Linked DNA regions of Homo sapiens: region 2 is linked to region 1. Evidence: fine-mapped expression QTL. A gene starts in region 1. The other region holds a variant in brackets. All regions are shown on one strand. Distances are from middle to middle.

Region 1 (4,381 bases):
CACACGCGCGCACACACACTAAACACCAACCAGTCACCAGATTAAGTCAATTAACATCAGAGTCATCTTCTCATGGAAGGAATTTAGGAATTCAGCATTTGTTGAGCAAGAGCCCCATCTTCACCAGAAACTCCCCTTGACTCTAGTACCCTGAACAGCAGCAGTGAAGGCAGCCTCATTGGGCAGACCCACACACCAAAACCCAACCAGGACAGCCAGGGGGCCTGTGAGCTTGGGCTGCTCGCCCAGATGGCTGGGCCCCCATCCTGGCTGTGCAAAAAAACTTCCATACTTCCTCTGGGAGCAGATGTGGATTCTGCCACGAGCAATAACCACCACACACATCACAAGAAAAACGGGGCAACTCCAGAAACACCTCCTCCAAATCCCTGGAGATTGGTCTCTTTCCTGGGTTACATTTACCTCTCCTTTTACAACTGGGGGCAGGGGAGATGTTGATTCCACCAGCACCAAAACCCCTCCACAGCTGGCAGGCCAGAAAGATATTAGAAAGGCAATTCCTTACCCATGCCCTTCCCATTGCCACCTTCAAAGGAGATGGAAGGTGATCACCTAGGACAGGTCTCCTCGACAGAGCTCCCCAAGAGAAAGCTGCTTCGAGGACCACCAAGGAGTGTTGTGGAGGGTCGGGGGCTTTATTTCCAGTCCGGGCTATTTGGGATGTGCGGGTGGCTTGGTGCTTTCCTGTAAGGCACTTCAACACCTCAGTGATGACTCTTAGGTGTGACCAAGCCAGGAAATAAAAGCTGCGGGAGTTGGGGGGGCGGTGCTGTCTGCCCTGGTGATGAGGGCCACACCCTCGTTAAAATGCTAAGGCCCCCCCCCAAGAAAAGCCAGAATGAGCTCTTTTTGCCTTTCTTCCCTTAGAAATACTTCCTTTCCTCTGTGAGGACAGTCAGGATGGAAATCCAGGAAGGAGCAGAACAAACCCCGTCCGCACCTTTGCAGCCAGGCCATGCCCGATTTTGGCAGCGGCCTTCACACATTAGTCACCGCGACAGCCTGGGACCCTCGGATCCCCGGATTCGGCCCTGGCACGGAGTGGGCGCAGGGTTCCAGACCAGTAGCTAGAGGCCATGGATGGGGGCGGCCCCTAACTCTTCCCTTCTTCCGCCCTCACCCGCAGGGCCATCTGGGGTCTCAGCTTTGCCCAGGAACTCGGAGGAGGGAAGCCGGGAACGTCGGGTCGGCGTAGGTAACAAAGCTCCGCGCTTTGCGCGCCGCAGGTCTGTCCGGCATCGGGCCCCAAACCAGCAACTCTTACCTGGGCCGACCCTGCCGGGTGGGGTGGGGAATTCCTTTTTCTCCATCGCGCTCCCCACGGTGGGTGCGGATGGTCTTTTCTCCCCCGACAAGAAACTCCCCATCTGGGCCCGAGAGCCAGCAACTCTCGGCAGTTCTCGAGCAAACTCTCGGCTCAGACCAGAAAAACTCAGGGAGGCTGGAAATGCGTCCCCGCGGCGCGAGTGGGAGGGGTACCCTGACCGCGTCCCTGGAGGCTTCGCCAGCCTCCCGACACCCGGGCTCCTTGCGCCCTTCCGCCGCAAGCCTGCACCCCCAGCGAGCCTCTCCACTACTCCAGGGCCGTTCCAGCCGCCCAAACCCACCGCCCCGGGCGCAGCCTTTTGCCCACGGGACTCCCGCGCTTCCCAAGCTCTGTGCCCCCAACTCTCGGGTACTCACCGCCCAGCAGCGGCAGCAGCAGGACGCTGAGCAGAGGCAACCGGCGGGGTCTGGCCGGGGATCCCCGCGCAGCTCCCATCGCGGCGGGCTCAGGAAAAGGAGCTGAGGGCGCACGGCGGGCGCGCAGACTGCGCTCCGCGGCGGGCACAGGAGGCGGAGCGCACCGGAGCGCGGGCGCCGCAGCAGCAGCCGCAGCCGGAGCCCGACCCCGAGGCGTCCCGAGGCGTCCCGAGCCGGAGCCGCGCGCGCCCAGTACCTCCGAGTCCCCGCGCGCCGCCGCCGCCGCCGCCAAGCCCCGCCCCACGACGCCCCCTCCCCTCCGGCCCCCGCACGGCGCCCCGCCCCCTCGACGCCCCCTCCTCGCCGAGGCGGGGAGGAGCTCAGTAGGGGGAGGGGTCTGGAGAGGGATGGAGAATAGAGAGAGCAAGGCTCAGGGAAGTGCAGGGGACCTGAGTATTTGCTGTACCCACCACCGACTCTGCAGGGATCCGGGAGAACCTAAGTGACTTGTGCGATTCCGTGGACCCTGGGGAGAATGGTCCATTCTGGGCATACCTGGAGGCTCTGGCCAACAGTTCCCCCAGAATTCTCCAGGTGGGGGCAGGGGAAGAGGCGGGCCCCGCCAACTCTTCAGCAACCCAAAATCTTAACGGCAGACCCAGAACAGCAGGGTGTCCTTAATGTCCCCAAGTAACCTGAAGATGCTGTGTAGCCCGGAGAGGGGCTGAAGTGTGCATGACTGGGGTCTGGTTTGGCTGTAGACCAATCTGAACCCAAAGGTAGAAACACGCTGGGCTCTGAAAGCCAGGCTGAAGTCTGCTAACTGACAAATTCATCCCAAGTCCATCTCCAGGCAGTCTGGGCTGTGTCAGGGTATGGCCAAGTCTCCAGCTGTGGGGAGGCCCAGCACAACCCTTGTTCCAGGCACCCCCACCCCCAGCGCCACCACCCCCACATTCTTTCTTTGTTGTGAAAGCAGCAAGGGGTGTAGGAGGCGGGTCAGGAGGAGTCAAGCTTTAGAAGATGGGCCCCAGCTGCTGCTCAGGCCTCCAAGATATGCTGAGAGGGGATGGATAGTGCCTTGTCTCCCCTCTGGTTCCGGAGGGCCCCCCAGGCCTGTTTAGACCTCCCTTCCCCCAAGCAGCTGGGAGGAGGAATGGCAGCCACAGAGGGCCTCACAGCCAGGAGAAGTGGCGCCAGGACTCCAGGGTCCTGCCACATGGCCACCACATGTCCCTGACAACCCAGTCCACAGCACCTTCTCCTTGGGTTGTGAGCCTCCTTCTTCCCCATCCCCCAGATGCCTTCCTACAGGCCCTGCTGGAGATGATACAAACAACGGGAGGAAGAGAGGAGAGATCCAAGAATCAACACTCCTCCTGCTGCTCCATCCATCACTGCCCCTCACCTTCTGTGAAGGGCCCCAACACAAGCCCTGCTTCATACCCTCTTCAATCAGGACTCAAGTCACAGAAAGGTTACCTGATTCTTTTATTTAAGAAAAGTGAAATACATGGACCTGAAGTGAGACAGCAGAGGGAGGGAGTAAGAGCGGCCAGGGCAAGGCAGCTTGGCTGGCCAGCCCCCAACCCTCTGACTGAAAAGCCAGCAGCAGGCTGCATCTCTGAGGGCCATACCTGCTTTGTACCCACCTTGGGGCCTCAGAGCTAGCTACTCTAGAGGACCACAGGGTGCAGAGAGGGTGTCCTGAGGGTCCTTCCTAAGAGGGATTCCTGAGGAGGGAGCTGAGACCCTAAGGGCAGCAGCAATCTTCTGGTTAAACTGCTCCCCTTCACTGTCCCACCTAGGGGTGGGGAAGAGCCAGGAGCAATGGGGAATGCTGTGAGGGCTGTGGGGGTGGGGGGACCCAGCAGACCTGGGGGCCGGGTTGAATGTCAGCTGCTTGAAGAGAGGTCCATGGTGCTGGCACTGAGGCCCCGGGAGACCTGAAACAGACAACACTACCCCATCAGCTCAGGGACCTCGGCCTCCCAAAGACTGGCTCCTAGAGTCCATCCATCCCATGGTCACAGTGTATCTCTGGACCTAGGATCACATCTGTCTCTGGACCAGTCTATCTCTGGACCTGGGACTTTGTTTAGCCTCTGCTAGGGTTTTCCAGAAGGCCACAATCTGGTGGAGAAGCTACCTGGAAGAACCACATGAATACTGGCATATACTTGTGTGTTGATACAAGAAGTCATTTGCCATTAAAATATCACTAGTGTTTTCTCAGATGGGGATTATTTAATACTTTTCTTTTTCCATTCTCATCTACTACTAAGGCGGCTGCAGGATGAAAAAATAATTCGTATCTCCAAATAATTCTTAAATTATTCATAATTCCAAAGTACCAGTTTACAGAATATTCCTATTTCCCTCCTTATTAACTTATTTGCTACTATGTCTGGCCTGAAACTGTCCCTTGGTGGTCAGCACTCACCACAAGCTATCTGCCTGATTCCTTAATGACTGCAATCCCCTGGCTCATCTTCATCCCAGATGACTCCTCTCCCTTCCCTCTTCCCTTACTCCACTGGGCTTGCTCACTGGCTGTCCTTTTTTCCTCACCCACCAATATGCTCACAAGCACTGCTCTCACCTGGAGGGGTGCTGCACTAGGTTGGTTCAGATAGTTCAAGGAGGCTGCTCGCTTCATGTTGCTGCTACAATGGAA
Region 2 (4,381 bases), 69 kb before region 1:
GGAGGAAAACTGGAATGAAAGGCTGGGCAGCTACAGCCCAAGGGAGAGGACAAGATGCAAACCACAGAGGGGGAAACCCAGGCAGCCCATTCACAGAAGAGTCTTCTCCACTCAGAGCTGAAGAAACACGCTCAGGCCCACAGCTAGCCCAGCAGGCCCCTGCACTAGGACTGCTTGCTGCTTCTCCAGCTCAGAGCTCATTGCAGGTGGGCAGGCGTCCTGCTCCAATGCAAGCTCCTGCCCAGAGGCAAGGTCCGAGGGTAGCTCTTCTCCGTGAAGCCAGCATGGCAATGCAAAGCCACTTCCAGGCTACATGACCTGGGACAGGTCAGACAACCTCCTAAGCCTCAATGTCTTCATCCACAAAATGGGGATAGTAGTATATATTTCAGACGACTACCGTGATAATTACAGTAACACATGTGAAGTTCTTACCATAGGGCCTGGCCCATAGAGAGCCCTCAATAAATGGTGCCTCTGTTGCTCCTGGCCCACCCCTGGGCACCCTCTCCCTCCCTCCTTCACTCCCTGTCCTCACCTTCTGCTTGGTGCTGAGGGGCTGTGACTTCAATTTTTCATCCTTGCTCTTGGAAATCCTCAGGAACTGCTTGAGGTCTCCCTAAGGGAAAAGCCAGGCATCTCGCTCAGGTCAGTGCACAGCCATTGGCTGTAAAGCCTCAGACCAAGCAGGTGCTCGCAGAATTCCTGCCTGGGGAGGCAGTGAGAAGGCCTAAGCTAGCCTGGGCCCCTTTCCCAGGGGGAAGTTCACTGGGAGTGCAGAACTTTAAAAATATATAGGAGACGCCTCCTAGAGGCTGTCTCAGTTAGAAAGGAGGAGAATTGGCATTTCTACCCCAAGGGGAACCTCCAGACAGGTGGGGCAACAGAGCCCCCATCTTCAGTGAGCCAAGAGGAAAACAGTCCCCTACCCTCTGCCCTCAAAGATTCCTGAGAGGAAACCCCTGTCCTCCAGAGCTTTACAATCTAATCTAAACAAACAAAGGAGAACGCCAGCAGCAGAAACATACATAAAGCATTCATAAGTACTTGTTTGTTTGTTTTTAATTTTTTTGTAGAGACAGAGTCTTGCTATGTTGCCCAGGCTGGTCTCGGACTCCTGGCCTCAGGCGATCCTCCTGCCTCAGTCTCCCAAAGTGCTGGGATTACAAGTGTGAGCCACTGTGCCCAGCCGCGTAAGTACTTGTTAATGGAAAGACTGATAGGACTCCTGCCCGCTCTTGCCCCAGAACTAGGGATTTGAGAAGCAGCAGTTTGAGGACCATGGGGTGAGGGCAAGGACCAGCTGGGGAATGAAGAGGAAGGCGCAGCTCTGGGAATGACACCCTGAGTGGAGAGGAGAAGGCTGGTGGCTGGGGTAACACTCATGTCACAAGTGGTGCTAGGAAGGAGGGAGGCAAAGTGGGTTCTGATATATTTATTCTCAAGTGGGGACAAGCTTTTGGGGAGGAAAAAATAACAAACCAAAGAAAACAAGAGTCAGAGAAGATGACCTGGAAGGCATCCCTGCAGTGTGACAGTGAGAAGTCCCAGAAAAACTTAGGACCAACGCCCCTGAGATACAGATGGAAAGACTGGGTGCTGATAAAGGGAAAGCAGGCATCCAAGAGCAGGGAAGGCAGAAGCTGAGCATCATAAGGTGGGCAAAGTGTAACAGCAGGCAGGTGAGGTCTCGGCTGAGACTGCACGAGACAAGGTTTTCACGGTGCTCCAACCACTGACTCCCACCTTTGTAGGACACTGCCCTCCCTACCCGAGACCCCCACGTCCCCTGCCAACAGCATACCAGATCCACATATTCCAGCACCATGTAGTGGGGCTCAGCCTCCCGGCACAGCCCCAGGAGCCGCACCACGTTGGCGTGGTTCAGCTTCCCAAACATCTCCAACTCCCTCCGGAAGTCCAGCTGCTGCTGCTCATCCTTGCTCTGCAGGCTCTTCACAAGTACCAGGGTCTCTGCCACTCCCTCCTCCAAGCCCTGAGCCTTTGCCAGGAACACCTCCCCAAACTCACTCTTCCCTGTGGGTACAGTCTGAGTCAGCCAGCCACCTTCACCCAGGCCGAGGCAGCTCCTGACCTGGGGGAGGGGCCTAGCCTCTCCCACAGTGGGGACCCACCCACCTGGGCTGGGCACGAGACCCGGTTCTGCTGTGACCCCCTCCCTCCTTAGGCTTCAGTGTCTGCAGCAACAAAATAAAAGGGTGGGACTAATATTCAGCATTTTCCAAAGGGTGACTCGCATGAGAATTTTTGGTGGCTCATGGTAAACATGTCTTAACGTATGCTAGGAAAAAACGTAACTATGACAAACCCATGATTTCTCATATTTTTTCCTAGAACAATGGTAACTTAGTTTTTTTTTTTAAAGAGTCAATTTAAATAAAACATCAAGTAAATAATACTACAGGTAGTACACAGGAATGACAAAATCTGCACGAAGGGCAGTGAATAACAGGCTCTGGGGCCACACTGGGCTAGATCTCTACCTATGCTTCCCTCCACCTCTAACATTCTAGGTTTCAGGGACTTCAGAACACTAGCCCG[T/C]ACCCAGCCTCAAGACACAGCGGGTGACTTGTAGTTAGGCAGGGGCAGCTGTAGTCAAGGCAACATACCCAGCGTGGTGATGGGCTGCAGGCTAGACCGTGGGAAGTGCATCTTATCACTTGTGCTGTGGCGTTTGTTGGTGGCCGCGGGGCCGGAGCCCAAGCTGGTCAAGGCCACTTCTTCTTGGATCTCTGCTGAGGGCTGCCCGTTCTGCAAAGGCCCACCTGGGAAGGAGGAGGACAAGAGCGTCACGATGAGACCTGACACTCTGGCCACCATGGGGATTTCTGTTCTGTCCCCTGGTCTTCCACTCTTGCCAACTTGGGTCCAATCACAGTGCTCCACATGAAAGGGCAAGCCCAAATGATGAAATAATGGGGCTGGGGCTGGGTGGGGGATGTATGGCTATCCCCTAGGGTATGACCCCTTAGTGATGCAGCTGATTATGACCTCTGAGATGAAGCCAACTGCAGACATCTAATCTGAATCACTGGTCCTTAATACCATAGCTACACATAAGGATTTTTGCTTTCATGGGGCCTCCTATTGGGCAAAGCCCTAAACAGGCACAAAGGGAAAATCACAATAATGGAGACCCAACCTCTGCTCCTGAACACCTGAGCTGATAGGAGAGACCCAGCAATGACCTCAAGGAGCTCCCAGTCCAGGAAGTGGGGATAGGAGAAGGGAAGTAAACAGAAAGACTGCCCCTGGGGGAGCTCTTAGACTCATAGAGGGAGACAAGACATGCAACAGCAACGTGTGTACATATACTAATGATATCTGTGGTTTTGTGCTGGGAGGAGGAAACAGCAGGGAATCATAGGAAGCTGGTCCAAGGGGCTCCAATGAAGAAGTCTCAAGCCAGGTTGCTCAGAAGACGAGGCCCTGGGAATCCAACTCCAGGCTTCCCGCTAGGGGTGGGGCAGTCCCAGCTCCAGGACCCAGCAACAGCCGCTCGGTTTCCAGAGTGCTGGCGCTCTCCCCTCCGTGGCCGCGGGAGGGCGCTCAGCTCCCGCACACGGGCACCACCTCCCCGTCCAGGGCCCCTCACCGTTGAGGCATTCCATCTCTGGCTCCTCGCCCTCGGGCTGCTTCTGCAGCCGCTTGGCTTTGCAGCGCTTCTTGCAGTAGAACATGAGGCCCAGCACGGCAATGATGTAGGCCACAGCGGCACCCACCGACAACCCAATGGTCTGGATCATCTTGTAGGGGGGAGGGCTGCCAGGGCCCTCCGACTCCTCCGGCACAGGCTTGTCTGAGAGACACACAGATGGGTCTGGGCAGGGGCTGCTAAGCAAAAGAAGCCCTGCTTCTCTACTAACTCCTCCCAACCCCATCAACAGGGCAACTTAACAGATGGCCCGGGAGGGTCACCACCTTCACTGGCTTTAACAAGGGCCAGCAGGTCCTCATGCCCCACCAAGGTCAAACGAAGACTCTGAAGGAGATGAGGCCAGGGGTTCCCAAGCTGGCTTTGCATCGGAAGCCAAGACAGGCGACACGGATAAGCACACCTGTCAAGGAGCTACCACAAACCCACGTTATTTGTTAAGCTTCCCAAGTGACTTGATAATGTGAGCCAGGCCCCGGAGAGCAGCATTTGGGAGCTTCAGGTTTAGAATTCCAGGCACTGCCTGGCACAGAGCAGGTTTTTCAATAAGCAGATCTGTAGAAGGGATCTGCTGGTCTAGGGGCCTTTTAATGGCCCACACTGAGGGGCCTCAAGAGGCATTAGGGGAATGAAGGGAGACCATGCAGGATCCCCCAACTGCCACACACACCCCAGTGGCTCCCACCAAGGGGGCCTCCTCAGTTC

What was found. PIP is the estimated chance that this variant, and not a neighbour inherited with it, causes the effect.
Region 2: its variant is fine-mapped to the expression of PTK7 in whole blood (INTERVAL, PIP above 0.99).

Annotation. Positions count from the first base shown.
Region 1 is chr6:43,073,891-43,078,271 of GRCh38, reverse strand. It overlaps PTK7 (protein tyrosine kinase 7 (inactive)), which reads right to left and starts at 1,958. Exons shown (of 20, transcript NM_002821.5): 1 at 1,705-1,958. The coding sequence starts at 1,783. KLC4 (kinesin light chain 4) reads right to left here. Exons shown (of 16, transcript NM_201521.3): 15 at 4,307-4,370; 16 at 3,179-3,650. The coding sequence ends at 3,600. It overlaps KLC4-AS1 (KLC4 antisense RNA 1), which reads left to right and starts at 2,042. Exons shown (of 2, transcript XR_002956347.1): 1 at 2,042-2,577; 2 at 3,005-3,939. RefSeq lists a silencer at 1,871-1,970 and an enhancer at 2,300-2,823.
Region 2 is chr6:43,142,856-43,147,236 of GRCh38, reverse strand. PTK7 (protein tyrosine kinase 7 (inactive)) reads right to left here. Exons shown (of 20, transcript NM_002821.5): 14 at 3,617-3,820; 15 at 2,631-2,786; 16 at 1,805-2,037; 17 at 539-619. Among named protein-coding and RNA genes, the nearest start is that of SRF, 26 kb to the left of the region's middle. RefSeq lists an enhancer at 3,722-3,811. The variant T/C (reference allele first, on the strand shown) is at 2,563.